Linked DNA regions of Homo sapiens: region 1 is linked to region 2. A link means that fine-mapping ties the variant in region 2 to the expression of a gene that starts in the linked region. Tissue or cell type: tibial artery. Region 2 holds a variant in brackets; the other region holds the start of a gene. All regions are shown on one strand. Distances are from middle to middle.

Region 1 (8,089 bases), 48 kb before region 2:
TTAGCTCACTGCCCAATCAAAATAATAATCACCACTGTCTGCATAAAGTGAGGCACCCGTGCTCACACATTAAGAATCCCCTTAAAGAGATGACGTTACTGTAGCAACAGCCATAGAAATTATTAGTGGGTGGAATCTACACAAAGGAGTAACAGCACATGAAACTGACCATAAATGACTGAGATTCCATGAATAGGTGACAATTTGCTGGCATGTCAAGGCTTACATGGATTACTATAAACAACTACATTTCCTAGGACCCTCTGCACAGCACACAGCCTGAAATACAGGGTGGGAGCCGAACTTAAAAAGAAAACTATAGTCTTGGAGGTAAATGTCACACACACAAAAATCAATTTAAAAAAACCGATGTATGTACTACAACCACTTCTTACAGGAAGACATTAAAAAAGAAAAGCCACAATCTACGATTGAAAGACAGCTTTAAAAACACACACATAAAAAACCTAGCAAACCAGACGGTGTTCTCAGCCACTCATAAAAGCAAAGTCTTATCAAAGTTTTAACTTCAAAGAGCTTAAAGACACTGCAAAGAGACACTGAGCAAGACTTGGTCCCGACTGCAACCTATTCCCTTCCAAAAAATAATCAGTTTGTAATCTAAATACACATCACACCAGGTCAAAGTAATCTCTTCCGGCAGCAAAATTTTGGCACTGGATTGCAGGGGGCTGTTCAAAATAGCTGGAGCCCCAGACACTTTGCGTTTTCAGTTCTGAAACACTTAGACAAAAGTTCACATCGCTAAGTGGATGGCCAGGACGCCCTTCCGGTTCAATTTGGAGACCGGAGATCTTTAACCTAACCTAACATTCCTTAAGGCATCGGTGCCCTCCCACTCAAAGTCAGCCTGGGTTTTGTTTCTAAGGGTCGCCAATAAATAGGTTTCACGGGCATTTAAGGCTCTGGGAGTCTTTTTCTGTCTGTTACAGGTAGCCCGGCTCTTAAAAACGATCACACACAACGTTCACAAGCATGTGCACATTCATACACACGTGTGCACATATACATGCCCACATGCGACACACGCGTACATCATACAGCATGCACGTGTCCATAAATGAGCTCACACGGACAGCCATGTCCCGCGCCCAGGCCCCCAGCGACACAGGCCCCAAGCAGGGCCTCCACCTGTGTGGAGGGAGCGGCTCAGACGGGGAAGCCCCAGCGCCTTGCAATGTTCACCTCACCGGCGGCTTCTGGCGTGGCCACGGCTCCTTCCTTTTCTGGTAATAAATACCAGATTTGGGGAAACCAAGGCGCCGCAATGTGTGTTATCTGTCACCCAAGGGCCCCATTAAGGGGACAAAGGCCTTATCGCGTTTGCAGCCGGCTAAGTGAAAGGAGGGCACCTGGGACTGTGAGCTCTGACCGCGGACGTCTCCCGCACCGCTCCCGCGGATCCTCGGACCCAGGGCCCCTGCAGCCGCTCCTGCCCAAGGGGCGCGAGGCGGAGGTGTGGAGGCTTTGGGGCACGCAGAGGGGACTGAGGGTGTGGGCTCAGGGCCGCGGTGCGGTCTTGGGGCTTAAAGTGCAGACTTAGGGTGAGGAGTGCGGGCTTAGGATGGGGGCTTGGGATGTACGGCGGAGGCTTGGGATGTACGGCGGAGGCTTGGGATGTACGGTGGAGGCTTGGAGAGGTGGGGCACACATTTGGGGTGCGACATAGAGGCTTAGGATGGGGCTTGGGATACGGGCTGGGGGCTCGTGGTGCAGGTTGGAGACCTGGGTGGGAGCTCTCAGTGCAGGCTGGAGGCGTGGGTCGGGGGGTCGCGGTGCAGGCTGGAGGCTTGGAGTGCAGAGTTGGGGATGCAGACTTGGGGTACAGGGCAGAGCTCGGGGCGGGCACGCACCTTGTGGCAGGCTGGGCAAGTGGGCAGCGCGCCGCCCGGCCCGGGCGCGCCCTTGCCGCCGTGGCCCCCGCCGCCGTTCAGGCTGCTCTGGATCTGCGTGAGCTCCTGGCGCAGCACCTGCTTCTGGTGGAAGCTGAAGGCCGGGTGGTTGGAGGCCATGGTGAACAGCAGCAGGAACTCATCGCCCGTGCGGCCCTCGTTAAGCTGCAGCCCGTAGTTGTGGATGATGGAGTCGATGTGCGTGAGCGTGCGGTAGAGCACGCCCGCCGCCTCGCGCTGCTCCGAGCCCAGCAGCGCCAGCGACACCAGCAGCTTGCTGCGCACCACCTCGTCCGTCAGGTTGGTGAGGCTGCCCAGGTCGGCCGGGTTGTTGGCCTTGATCTCCGAGTCGCGCAGCGAGTGGTAGTCCTTGCGGGCCAGGTCCTCCAGGCACGAGCCGAGGAAGCGAAGCTCGAGCGGGATGCACAGGTCCAGCAGGCCGCACAGGAACTCCACGCGCTGCGGCGACGGCAGCTCCGAGAACCAGCGGTACACGCCGTCCCTCTGCAGCGGGCAGCGCTTCTCCACCATGCTGCCGCCCGCGCCGCGCCGCGACCCGGGGCCGGGGACCGCGCGGGGGCGGCCGGGGGGCGCCGGGGGCCGCGGCCGGGGCGCGCCGGGACCGGGGACGCGCGGGCCGGGGCCGGGTCCGGGCGAGGGCGCGCGGGCGCCGCGGGCCGGGCGGGCGCCGGGGCGGGGGCGGGGACCGGGGCCGGGCAAGGCTCCCGTCAGGGGCCGGCGGGCGGGCGCGCGCGGGGCGCCGGGGGGGCCCGGGGCGGCCGGGGCGGCCGGGGGCGGCGAGCGGCCTCGGGCCCCCCGCTCACGGGGAGGCGCCTTCCCCGCGCCCGTGCCCAGCGGCGGCCGGTGCGCGGCGGCGGCGGCGGCTGCTCCTCGTCGTCGTCGTCGTCGTCGCCCGGGAGGCGGCCGCCCCCATCTCCCCCCGCGCCGCAGGGTCTGTCACTGCGGGCCGCCCCCCGACGGAGCCGCCCCGGCCATGCCGTCGCCGCCGCCCGCGCCTCCGCCCAGGCCGGCCGTTACCCCGGGCCGCGGGCGCGGCGTCGCCGCCTGGGGAGCGCTGGGGGCCGCGGCCGCGAAACGGACGCTGGAGGGGGAGGGACGCGCGGCGGGAGGCGCGGAGGGATCCGGCCGGGACTTGCCGGCCTTGCTGCTCCCGCGCGGCGGACGGATCCGGGCCCGAGCGCGGCGGCGGCGGCGACGGCGACGGCGACGGCGACGGCGACGGCGGAGGAGGCGCCGGCCGAGGAGCGGAGGGATCGTCGCGCTCGCGGCTGACGGGCGGCCGGGATCAGCAGAAGTGGGCGGGGTGGCCGCCTCTCGCGACAGCCCGGGCCTGCCGGGCCCGTCCCCCCCCCACTGATTGGCTCAGGCGGCCCGTTCTCGGCCCGTGATTGTGCCGGGTCCCCAATCCCATTCGCCCGTTCCGCGGCCACGCCTCCCTGGGGGCTGTCGATCATGTTGGGGCCACCGCCTCCCGTCCCTCGGCGGCCGTCAAGACGCGATTGGTCCGCGGAATCGGAGAGGCGGAAAACCCGGGCTGGATTTCTGGTTGCTTTTGTTCCCGCAAATTTGCGTGGAGCATTGTTTTTCGGCGAAAACGGGGCGTTCGGCCTTCCTGCTTTATTTTTGAGCGGTGTAAGAGGGAGGTAGTGGGTATCTTCGAGAAACGGCCGCCGCGGGGTCCGGAGCCCCGGGTTCCAATCCCGGGTCGGCCACTGCAAAGCTGTGTGACCTTGGGCGAGTCACTTGGCCTCTCTGAGCCCCAGGCGCCTCCCCGGGAAAAAGAGGGTAATAATAACCGCCCCCGAGGTTTGTGCGAAGGTGTTGAGCTCACAGAGGGCCGGCACCGGCACTTTTGAGGCGGCTGACTTGCCCTGGGGGTGTGATGGGAGGTGCAAGCTTTCTCCAAAAGCCTCGTCCAAATGGAGCCTTTAAATCCGCCTTCTTTCCGCGGCTACTTCACCAGCTCGCCAAACGCAGAAAATGCAAACACAGGGGAGGGGGCAAGGGAGCTGACCTGGCTGGAAGTAAACAGAAACGCCACCCTCCCCTGGCACTTGCATTGGCACCGGATTGCAGGTGGGGGAAGGGCCGGTGCACCCAACCACCTTTAAATCCCACCACTTACACACAGGCATAGAAGTAGAGCCGCGGGGGCTGGACGCTCATTCCTCCCCTGCCCTTCCCCTAGAGCGCTGCTTTGAATGTCTGTTGATCTAGAACGGGGTCTGTTCATTCATGGGTTCCAGGTCCCAAGCGCCCGGGGGCAGCTGAGAGCAAAGCTGGCGCCCTCCCTACCCTGTGGAGCTTACACTCTGGTTCTGGGCAGTGCACACTAGAGATTGGTTAAATCAATGAATGAACTTTTTCAGGATATGGTCCAAGGTGCTGAAAACTTCCTAACAAAACTCTTCAGCCGAATCTGGCACGCCTGTGGTTCCAGCTACTGGGTAGACCGAGGCAGGAGGATCGCTTGAGGCCAAGAGTTTAAGACCAACCTGGGCAACATGGTGAGACCCCCCCTCCCCGCCCCAGTCGCTCCAAAACAAACAAACCCCACATTCTCCAGTCTTAGGTCTTCGAGGATGAACAGAGATTGCAGAAAGGCATGGTTGGGAACAAAAAAAATTGCTCTCCACTCCCCCAGCCCCCTCCACACCTTGGGCACATTTCCCTGGAGCTGCCCCAGTGTTCTTTGTCAGTGTAGGAAGAAGCAAAAATCTAAATGGAGTCAGGATGGCCTCCCACATGGGCACAAGGGCAAGGCTGGGGACAGTTGGGTCTCCTCATCTTATTTCCCAGGTCTAGGCTGATTTCTATTAATAATTAAATTAATCGTCGTTGTCCTGGACCTCACTTCTTAATGTGATTCCAGGGAACTGGCCACATTCCAAAATTCATAATCTAAGGTAGTGAAAGAACGTGAACATCAAGACAGTTTGGCTGGGCTCAGAGGCTCACATCTGTAATCCCAGTACTTTGGGAGGCCGAGGGTAGATCCCTTGAGCCCAGGAGTTCGAGACCAGCCTGGGCAACATGGCGAAATCCCATCTCTACAAAAACTACAAAAATTAGCCAGATGTGGTGGCATGTGCCTGTAGTCCCAGGTACTTGGGAGACTGCAGTGGAAGGATTGCCCGAGCCCGGGAAAGGGAGGTTGCGGTGAATGGGGATCCCGCCACTGCACTCCAGCCTGGGTGACAGCGTAAGACTCTGTCTCAAAAACAAAACAAAACAAAAGATTCATTTCTTATTGATAAAGCAAGCTCCTTGGAGAAAGATCTTGGAACCTCATTAGTGCTGGGGGTGGGGGTGGGGCTTCTTCAATCCAGCCGAGCTGGCTGTGAAACCCCCAGGCTTTGGTACCAAGTGAGCTCCAGTCCCAGCTGTGGCTGACTGTGTGAACTTGGCTATGCATTCAGAGGCCTCTGAGCCTCAGTTTCCTCATCTGTAGAAGACAGCCAGGAACCCGTCATCCTGGCTAGCAGTGGAAGTCAAAGGTGCTCATGGAAAGCCCTTGCTGGCTGGAACAAGGGAGGCCTGAGCTGTGGAAGTCCTTGGATCAAGGTCCTCCCCACTTCCCGCTGCCTTTTTGGTCCTTCTTGCGTGCTCTTTGTGATTTAATGGCTTAGTAGGTTGAATCATGTCCCCCCAAAGTTTATCTCTACCCCAAATCTCAGAATGTGACCTTATTTGGGAAAAGAGTCTTTGCAGATATAATTAAGGTAAGAGTCAAGATAAAATCACACTGAATTAAGGTGAGCCCTACATGCAATGAGACTGTCCTTACAAGATACAGAAAAGAACACATAGAGACTTCGGGGGAAAGGAGACTATGTGCAAGAATGGCAGAGATTGGAGCCAAGGAGTGCCTGGGCCTACCAGAGGCTGCAAGAGACAGGGAGGACCCTCCCCTAGAGCCTCCAGAGGGAACAGAGCCATGCCCACACCTTGACTTTGGACTCCTGGCCTCCAGAACTGTGAGAGGGTAAGTTGCTATTGTTTTCAACCCCCAACCCCCACCCTCCCCCACCCCCCGACCCTCTCCCACCCCCATCTCCCACCCCTCCCCCATCCCCATCTCCCACCCCCCCCCCACCCCTCCCCTACCCCCATCTCCCCACCCCTCCCTCACTCACGCGTGTTGTGGTTACTTGTAGGGCAGCCAGGGAAACCGAAACAATGTCATATCCCCCCAGACATCGGTGTGGCTCAGCTCAATCCAGTTCACAACAAATATGAAATCCCTGCCCTACAGGACCAGGCCTCAGGAAGGGCTTGGGGGCCTCAGAGGCAAATGAGACCAGGTCCATCGACCCTACAGAACTGACAACCTGGACTCCCCACTCTGAAGCAGGCAGGCTGCCTGAAGGAGGGGGCCTCCCTCATAAGGAGAGGGCAGACGCTGACCTCCCGGGCCCTCCAGCATTCTCTGGGTCCTGGCCCCGAGATTCTGGTTTTCCACACAGGGCACCTACTGTCTCCCGCTTCCCTGACTCTGCCCGTGCACAAGGTAACCCCAGCTGCAAGCGTGCCAGGAGCTTTTCTCCACCTCTGCCTCGACATCTGCCGCCTCTCCTCCTCTGGAGAGGGAGGCAGCTGAAGGACAGCAGCCCCACGCCTTGCTGGAGCGGCTGAGATCGCTGGGAGGAGGTTGGGAGAGGACTCAGGGGCTCAGGCTAGATCAGGAGGGTGGGCCCTGCCTCCTTGTGAGGGGGCCCAGCACCAGGGGGAGCCCACAGTCTAGGGTGCTGTTCAGCCAAATTGGCTACCACTGGGTGTGAGGTCTGTGGTTGTGCAGGGTTGAAGGGCTGGGTGTCATTTGCCTCTGAGGCCCCCAAGCCCTTCCTGAGGCCTGGTCCTATAGGGCAAGGATAGACTATTTATTGTAAACTGGGTTGCGCTGAGAGCCACACTCATGTTTAGGGGGAAATGCCATTTTATTGGTTTCCTGTGACTGCCCTACAAATAACCACAAAGAGGCGAGGGGAGAAGTGGGGGCTGTCCCTTCCACAGAGCTGCAATCAAGCACAAATGACTCTAATAGTATCAATTGTGAGAGAGAGAGAGAGATTTGGAGTTCACCACAAATTCCCCAAACAAACAATTTTACAAGAAGGACATGACCCGCCTGGCGTTACTGCTTAGTTCTGAATGAGTGATACCGACTGCAGCAGGTGACCAGGCCAAGCCCAGAAATGGGCCACAGGGACCCCAAGCACATGCTCTTCCCCCAGACTGCCACCATCTTGCTTTTCCTTCAGACCTAGGACCCCACGAGAGGAGGGATCTGGAGGCCAAGCCAGGAGCAGGACAACACCAACAGAGGCCTCAGAAGAAGACTCAGAGTGGGACAGGGGCTCCTTAAGTGATTGGGGCTGGAAGTGCGCAGAGAAGCCCGGCGCGGCAGGGAATTGTCTCTCCCTGGGGTGCTGCCAAGGTGTGTGTGGTCTCTAGCTGCAACGTGCGCTTCCTTCCCTTGGCCTGACTCCTGCTTTCCTGTCATTGAGAAGGTTTGGGACCTGACACCCTGAGCATGGAGGCCATAAATCCAGTGGATCCCTAAATTTCCTGATGGGGTCCTGGCTCCAGGCCTCGGTGCCTGACAGCCTCGTGTAATTGACAAAACCCCATGGAGCTGTTTCTGATACTGAATTCCCATCACGCAGATACTGAATGGTCAAGGGCTTCAGCCCGGGCCACACAGTTAGTTCATGTTGGAATTGGATTCTGCCCTAAGTCAATTGCCCATAGACTCTGCCCCTCCCAGGAGGAAACCACAAATGTGACATATTGTTTATTTGCTATTTTTGCAAAGGTGTCTGTTGCTTGCCAGCTTTTCCAGCCATGACTGCAGACAAAGTCCACCTAGAGTCATAAATGGGCAATCAGCCCCGAACAACGTCCAGACCCGGTTTCTGCACGGCGAGGCGTTTTTGTCCATGGCAGACTTGCTTACCCGGGTGTCTTTGGTGTGGGGCTAGATGCAGCATTTCCCCAGTGGGAATGGCCCGGGGTCTTATTTAAAGTGGAGGGTCCTAGGCCTGGCCCCACGTATGGAGTCAGGGTCCCTAGGGGTAGGACCTTGGAATCCGCATTTTTTTTTTTTTGAGACAGGGTCTCCCTCTGTCACCCAGGCTGGAATGCAGTGGCGCGAT
Region 2 (8,100 bases):
TCATCAACTGTGGGAAAAACCCTGAGACTCACTTATAACCGCTGACCTCAAACACCCCCAAGTCTAAATTGTTTCCATCTCCCTGAATCCAAAACTCCAGCTGACGAGCACTGAGTGTTTATGTGAACATGGCCACATCCAAATGACCAGGCAGCCCTATAGCTCCTCACAGTCAAGTTCCTGTACGGTTTCCTCAAGATGCAAAAACATTTTGAAGTATGAGATTCGAGCTTCATACCCTGCCCAAGCCTTCTGTTTAAAGGTGGAATGCATTCCCTGCTTTTTTTCTTTTTAAATCTGCCCCCTTCTTGGTTTCTAATGACATTTGACATTTGACGTTCACCACTGCTGTGAGTTCTCCTCCGCCACTGTCAACACAGCCATGCCCAGCTACTAACGCAGAGACAGCAATGCTCCAGGCCAGAGCATATGTTGGAGACCTACATTCATTTCATAAATGTGAGCAACACAGTTTCCCATTCCTTTTGACTCATTTTTTCCTTCCTTTTCTCCACTTGCCAGTTGGGGTGGACTCCAGCGTGGCTGAGGGCAGACGCCGCCGCCCCTGAGAGCTGCTTCTGGTTCACGTGGCTTCTTAGAGAACCACAACTCCAGCCCTCCTCTCTGTAGGGGACACAAATTCACCGCTTGCCCTTTGTCCCCAGAAGATGTTTTCTAACAGCCCAAGGGCCGATCCGGAATCAGAGAAAAACACTCCGTGGGGGAGGCCAGAGGAATATTTAGTTTGTGTTTTATTAGCCCTTGCTGGGTCTCCAGATCTGAACCCCGGCGGGGCCTGTGTGCTCAGATCTTCCCACAGCGTACCCCTGAAGCCCAGCTCAGGCAGCCTGAGGATTAGAATAAATGAAAATCATTATCTGAGCTGTTTGGCACACGTGCGTGTGCAAGAGCCAGGGGCCATTTTCAAGGGAAAATGCCCGTTGCAGTTTCCTAAATCCTTTCTCATTTTTGACTTATTTGATCCTGGCAACAACTTGGTGAGATTGGTTTATCCGTGAGTCCATTTCACAGGCAGGAAAGTGGTGTCGCAGGGAGGCCGAGTGACTTGTCCACAGCCACGCAGCTGGGAAACGGGGAGACAGATTCAGGTGAGGACCTGCTGCCTCCGCGGTGCGGGGTACACCTTTCTCTCTCTTCCTCCTGCCTCCTTTCCTCTTCCTTCCTTCTTCTCCAAACTTCCACTCACCTATTTTTAAAACTCTTTTTGGAGATGGGGTCTGGCTATGTTGCCCAGGCTAGACCCAAGCCCCTGGGCTCAAGCAGTCCTCCCACCTCAGCTTCTTGAGTAGCTAGGATGACAGGTGCATGCTACCACACCTTGCTCAACTATTTTTAATTGAAAAATTAACATACACAAATGGTTAAACAACCACAACCAAACAGTACAGGAAAGGATGTCCTGAAAAGTAAGCTTCCTTCCACCCCAAATCTTCAGGGTCCCAGAGCCCCTTTTTCTAGCTATGTGTGTGCATATGTGCTCGTGCACACATATGTGTATGCACACTTAGGTGTGCATGTGTGATACATTACTCGGCCTCCTACACAGACAGTAGCAGCCCATGCGCTGGGTGCCTCTGGTTCTTCTTATTTCTCTCTCTGTCTCTTTTTTTTTTTTTTGTTTTTGAGACAGAGTCTTGTTCTGCCTTCCAGGCTGGAGTGCAGTGGCACAAGCTCGGCTCACTGCAAACCTCCACCTCCCGGGTTCAAGCAATTCTCGTGTCTCAGCCACCCAAGTAGCTGGGATTACAGGTGCCCATCACCACACCCAGCTAATTTTTGTATTTTTAGTAGAGACAGGGTTTTGTCACGTTGGCTGGGCTTGTCTCTAACTCCTGACCTCAGGTGATCTGCCCGCCTCAGCCTCCCAAAGTGCTGGAATTACAGGCGTGAGCTGCCACTTCCAGCCCTTCTTATTTCTCTTGAAAGCTGTTCTGTGTCCACATGGATGGAGCCACCACGCTTTTTGCTGACTGCACAAGAGCTCTCAGTGCATGGGGAGTAGGCTGTCCTTCTCCACTCCTCTCCACCAACAGGCATGAGGCTGCTCTCAGTCTCTGCTGTAATCAACGCATGGCGTGGGTCATGCCTTTGGCACATATATGCCTTTGTGCCCCTATGCCAGTGCCTCACTCAGGAAGAATCCTCGGAGGAGAACTGCTGCGCAAGAGGATTTGCCGTTGTCAGTGCCGGGGCTGTGGTTAAATTGCCTCCCCGTAGGCTGCACTTGCTCACACGCCTGCCCTCCCGGTGTCAGGGTCATGCCCCTCACTCCTAACGCCATGCAGCACGTAGCCATTCAGGGGCCCTTTGGGGGCCCCTCCCAGCGAGCTCACTCTAATCAGAGACAGCAAAGGTGTTGGATCTGCTTGATTTTCAAATGATTTACCCAGAAGCATCCACCCTCTCAGCCCCTAGTGTGGGGAATATGAGCCCTTCCCTGGAAACACTGCTAGAAAAAGAAAAAAAAAAAAAGGAAGAGAGAGAGAGGGCTCATTGAATAGGGCATCCCTAAAACGTGGACAGAGGAAGCAGAGAGAATGGAGTCCAAACACTCAGATCCTGTTGTCACCCCACCAGGGTCTACCCAGCAACGCCGAGACACTGAACAGGGCCCTCGTGAGTGCCTAGAAACGGTGGTGATCAACTCCCACCCCTGAGCCTCCCTCAGTCCCCAGATCAGCAGCAGGGATTTTTTTACAGCCCTCTACCCAGCCACCCTGGGTCCTGTGCAGCCAACCTGGGTCCACACATGTCCGGGACTCACAGATGAGATGGAACTGTCCCACGCATGGTCTCTGGGGCAGAAACTGCTGCGGAGCCTGCCGAGGCCACTCCTGCCGACTGGCCAGGGCACAGCATCTGACCCAGGAGGCTGTGACCTCGCTGCCCCAGGCCTGGCATGGCCTGTGGACAGTGGCCCGTCCCGCCGGCCACCAGGAACCTCCCCTCGGTGCCCACCCCATCCACCTCGCCAAGACTAATCTAGAAATTATTTATAGATCCGAACTCCACAGAAACCATTGTGTCTGCCGTTGCCATGGCAATGGGGATGTGGCAGGAGCGCCAGGCTCTCAGGCTTTCCAGGGCCCGTGGAGGCCGGCAAGGGCGGTCGATTTCTCCCAGGAGCCCCTGACTCACGCCCACCTTCAGAGGCCCCCGGGAGTGAAGAAGACAGCCTTCCCACCCGTTTCCAGCAGGGCTGGCTGCATCCAGGAAGACAGCGCTGCTGGTGAGTGGTTCGGCTTTGTTTCAGACCACTCAAAGAAATCATCTAGAACAACGTCCGCAAGACTGGCGGTGCAACTGTCCCCCTTGGAACCTCTCGGGAACACAGCCTCTGTCTCCTCACCGCAGAGCAGCTGCGTCAGACTCCCAGACGGCGGGGCCTAGGGATCTGTGTTTTGGTTTTGGGATCTGTGCAAATCCACATGACTCAATAATCCAAACATACAGAGAGCCTGG[G/A]AACCCTTACCCCGCTCTGGCGCCCTATGTGTCCGCTTTCATTGGCTTCTTGTATTTCCGGCTTGTTTTCTTTAGGGAGGCAGCAAATACAAGATACGGTCCACTTTTATCTTTCCCCGCTCAGAAAATAAAGATACCACAGCCCAGGCTTCCGCACCTTGCTTTTCTCACTAAATACTATTTTCCAAAGCTGTCACCAAATTCGCCGCTTCTTTATTTTTTTTTCTTTTACGGCGGCACAGCATGGGTTCCCTCCTGTGGGTCGGTGTGCCAAGGAATCTGCTTGCGTAACCAGACCTTTTCCCTAGGAGCAGTTGCCCAGACGCAGCCCCTAGGATGAGGATGTGTTTGCAGCGACTATTCAGGGAGTACTCCCTGGGGACACAGGTTGGGGGTGGGAAGCTGGACTGGAAAAGGAAGGAAGCTGGGCAGGGTGCTATGTGGGCACAGTCCTTCTGCAGCCTGAAGGAACTGGGGTGGGCGGGGCATGCCCGACCCCACAGGGGAACTGTGGAGGGTCAATCACACCCAGGGATGTCCCAGCCTGAGACCAGGGAGCTGAGGTCTTCATACACCCACCCAGAACCCACCTGTCTTTGGTTAAGCGTGGTCTAGGGAGGTATAAATTCCCAGGCATTTCCGTGCATGAGGGTGAAGCGGCTTCAGAGAGCCCACAGGCCACCCTCTAAACCAGAGGTCTCCAACCCCCGGGCCACGGCAGAAGGTGAGCAGCAGGTGAGTGAGCAAAGCTTCACCTGTATTTACAGCTGCTGCCCACGGCTCACGTTAACACCTGAGATCCGCCTCCTGTCAGATCAGCCGCAGCATTAGATTCTCATAGAAGCGTGGACCGTATCGTGAGCTGCATATGCAAGGGATCTAGGTTGCACACTCCTTATGAGATTCTAATACACGATGATCTGTCACACGGCAGTGACCAGCACGGACACGCATCCCTTCCCGTATGAAGCTTACACTCCAGACCAGAGTTGCCCAATAAAGCTTCCTGCACTGATGGAATGTTCTAGATCTGCATTGTCCGATATGGTGACCACTAGTCCCTTGTGGCTTTTGAGCCTTTGAAATATGGCTGGTACTGGTTCATGGCCTGTTAGGAACTCGGTTGCACAGCAGGAGATGAGTAGCAGGTGAGTGAGTGAAGCTTCCTCTGTATTTACAGCTGCTCCCCATCGCTGGTATTACGGCCTGAGCTCCCCCTCCTGTCAGATCAGCTGCAGCATTAGATTCTCCTAGGAACGCGAACCCTATTGTGAACTGTCATTCGAGGAATCCAGGTTGTGCACTCCTTATGAGAAACTCGTGTCAGATGATCTGTCACTGTCTCCCATCACCCCTAGATGGGATTGTCCAGTTGCAGGAAAGCAAGCTCAGGGCTCCCACTGATTCTACGTTATAGTGAGTTGTATAATTATTTCATTAGATATTACAATGTAATAATAATAGAAATAAAGTGAACGGTAAGTGTAATAAGTTGAATCGTCCTGAAACCATTCACCCTGCCTGGTCCATGGAAAAATTGTCTTCCATGAAACCAGTCCCTGGTGCCAAGAAGTTTGGGAACCACTGCTTTAAGCAGCTGCTGGTGCTGGCTGTTGGAGGTATAAACACTCCAAAGCTTTGGAGAGCACAAAAATGGTAAAAAGGGATCCAGGGATCCGGCAGGGGCCCTGAGGTTATTCAACACACATTTCCAATGGATTCTGTTAAAACTGGTTCAGATAGGGAGCTGCCCTGGCTTAGGGACAATCCATGAGCAAATTATCACCCATTTACTCAGCGCTTCCATGAACCAGGCCCTGGCTAGACCAAGAAGTCCCAGGTGCGTGGACCCCAGCGCGTTTCCTCCAGGGGTGTAGCACTGGGCAGGAGAGGGCCGAGGGCCCCTGCAGCTGGAGGCAGCTGGTGGCCCCTGCGTGCTCGCGGCCCTGCTGCTGCTTCGTCAGAAATGACACGACATACCTCACTGCACCTCCTGACCTTGAGGTGCGCTGAGAAGCACTGCAGAGAGCACTCTGCTCATCAACAAGTTTTATTTCTCTGTTTGTGCATTCAGCACAAAATATGTGTATTGGTGTAATAAACTTTGTAATGTGTTTCCAACGTTTGATCCACGAAGTTTCAGGTCTTTCCCATAAGCAGAGCCCTTGAAGGTGCTGGCACAGATTCCACGATCTGAGGCCTCCTGACGGCCTCTGGAGCCCCCTTCTGCCGCTTCCCACGTAGGGCTGCCGCGTGTGGTCCGAAAATCATCCTAAAAATGGAACCTTCCACTCAGGCAGGCACCGCATGGGTCTGTGTGAGCCGCATGTTTCTCAGCCAAGACGCGGCTGTGTAGGAAGTTCCTTATAAGGATTTCCTACTCTTTGTGGGCCACCCGTTCATGCGGTGACCAACCTCATTTGCGTTCCCAAGTCTGTGCCGAGCTTCCTGTGGGCAGGAAGGGGCCCTCACTGCCTTCTCCCTTGTGGGTCTTCGAGCCCATGAAGTGGGGGCTTGGCCAGGGCATGAGGTGTCTTTCTGCAAATTAGAGAAAGGGACGTGCTAGGGTTTGAATGTTTGTCCTCTCCGAAGCCCATGCTGAAATCGAATCCCTACAGTGGCAGCATTGAGAGGTGAGGCCTTGAGGAAGTGATTGAGTCGAGAGGGCTCTGCCATCATCAGTAGATGAATCCATTGGTGGACTCACAGATGAACGGGTTAACATTGGTGGGCTCACGGATGAACGGGTTAATGGGTTAATGGTTATCCCAGGAGTGGGTCAGTTATCACGGGAGTGGGACTGGTGGCTTCATAAGAAGAAGAAGAAAGACCTGAGTGAGCAGTCAGCCTCCACACTATGGGATGCCCTGTGCCACTTGGGGCCTCCATAACTGTAAGAAATTAATTCCCTTTCTTTATAAATTGCCCAGTTTCAGGTATTGTGTTATCAACAACAGAAAACAGACTAAGGAAGCACTCCCTATCCGAGTGGACTCAGCCTGGAAAGGCACAGTTTTCTGTGTGGAGGGATTTTTATAAGTGCCCCAGGATGGTCGGGACTCCATCCACGCTGAACACCCATGCATCATTAACCTGGGATATTAATGAGAGTATTGGTTTGGGTGCTCTAACAAAGACAATCAGAGTGGCAGAGACTGCCAGAGGTGGAAGGTGATTTCTGTCTTAGTCTCTCACACCAAGGTCGAGCTGGTGTGGCCCGGGCACCTTCTCATTTGTCATTCCACAATTCCCCTTGTGTGTGGTCCTTGTCCACGTGCTGCAGGGCAGGGTCCCAGGATGGTCCTTGTCCACATGCTGCAGGGCAGGGTCCCGGGAAGCAGACCTGCGATGGAGATTTGCATACAGGAAGGACCTGGGCATGCTCTCAGGGAGAGGCAGGACCAACAGAGGGAGGAGGTGGCTGAGATGCTCCTGCCGGGTCTCTGAGGCTGGCACGGGCCATCACAGTTGTCCCAAGTGGGAGTGAGGGGCTTGGCCTCTATAGCCCCCCAGTGTAGGTGTGCCTCTGTGCAAGCCAGCTCTCTTCTGCTAAGGGTAATTCCCAGAGAGAGCTGAGAGTGGGCCGCACTCCAGCCAGCAGGAAGGGGCAGGGGAGGGGGAGACTCCCCAGTCTGTGCAGGGAGAGGCTCAGAAGGTACACACATCACTTTTCATCCTCATCCTCATCATGTGGCCATATCTACCTTCGAGGGAGGCTGTGGGGTGCAGCCATAAGCCTGTTTAGAAGTCAGGGGTGGTCTCACCATGAGATCAATGGGAAGACCATAACACCTGGCACCTAGATGAGACAGGCACAGCCTTGGTGCTCGGCAAATCAGTGCATGAGCAAAGGAGAGATTAGGAGCAGAGTGTCTGCTGTTGGTAGGAAGAACGGGATGTTTTCTCTTGGCTTGGGAGCACACAGAGTGATCCTATGTGTATTAGTTTCCTATGCTGCATTGTGTTACAAATTTAACTACTTAAAACAACACACGGCCAGGTGGGGTGGCTCACACCTATAATCCTAGCACTTTGGGAGGCTGAGGCAGGAGGACGGCTTGAGCCAAGGAGTTTGAAATCACACAACATAGGAAGACCTCTCGTCTCTACAAGAAAAAAATAATTAGCTGGGTGTGGTGGTGCGTGCCTGTGGTCGTGGTCCCAGATATTTGGAAGTCTGAGGTGGGAGGATTGCTTGAGATCAGGAAGTCAAGACTGCAATGACATACGATTGCACCATTGCACTCCAGCCTGGCTGACAGGGCAAGACCCTGTCTCAAAAAACCAAACCAAAACACAAAACACACACATTTATGATCTTGTCATTTCTGTGGGTCAGGCATCCAGGCACAGCTTAGCTGGTCTGTGCTCAGGGTCTCCCAAAGCTGTATTTGAGGTGTTTGCTGAGCTGCGTTCTCATCTGCAGGCCCAACTGGGGCAGAGTCTGCTTTGCGTTCATCCAGGCTGTTGGCAGAATGTATTTCCTGTGGTTGTAGGGCTGAGGGCCTGTTTTCATGACTGACTGTCCCCTGGGAGCTACCTTTGTCCCCTGCTCTGTGGCCCCGTCCGAGGGCATTTCACGACGTGGGTATTTCCTTCCTCAAGGCTGGCAGGAGA

The links. PIP is the estimated chance that this variant, and not a neighbour inherited with it, causes the effect.
Region 1: ZCCHC14 starts here. The variant in region 2 is fine-mapped to the expression of ZCCHC14 in tibial artery (GTEx, PIP above 0.99).

Annotation. Positions count from the first base shown.
Region 1 is chr16:87,489,795-87,497,883 of GRCh38, forward strand. It overlaps ZCCHC14 (zinc finger CCHC-type containing 14), which reads right to left and starts at 3,230. Exons shown (of 13, transcript NM_015144.3): 1 at 1,875-3,230. The coding sequence starts at 2,444. ZCCHC14-DT (ZCCHC14 divergent transcript) reads left to right here and starts at 4,393. Exons shown (of 4, transcript NR_110943.1): 1 at 4,393-4,441. RefSeq lists a silencer at 3,169-3,348.
Region 2 is chr16:87,538,243-87,546,342 of GRCh38, forward strand. LOC124903748 (a long non-coding RNA gene) reads left to right here and starts at 660. Exons shown (of 2, transcript XR_007065170.1): 1 at 660-1,109; 2 at 3,021-3,631. RefSeq lists a silencer at 1,747-1,978 and enhancers at 3,586-4,086, 4,087-4,587. The variant G/A (reference allele first, on the strand shown) is at 3,484.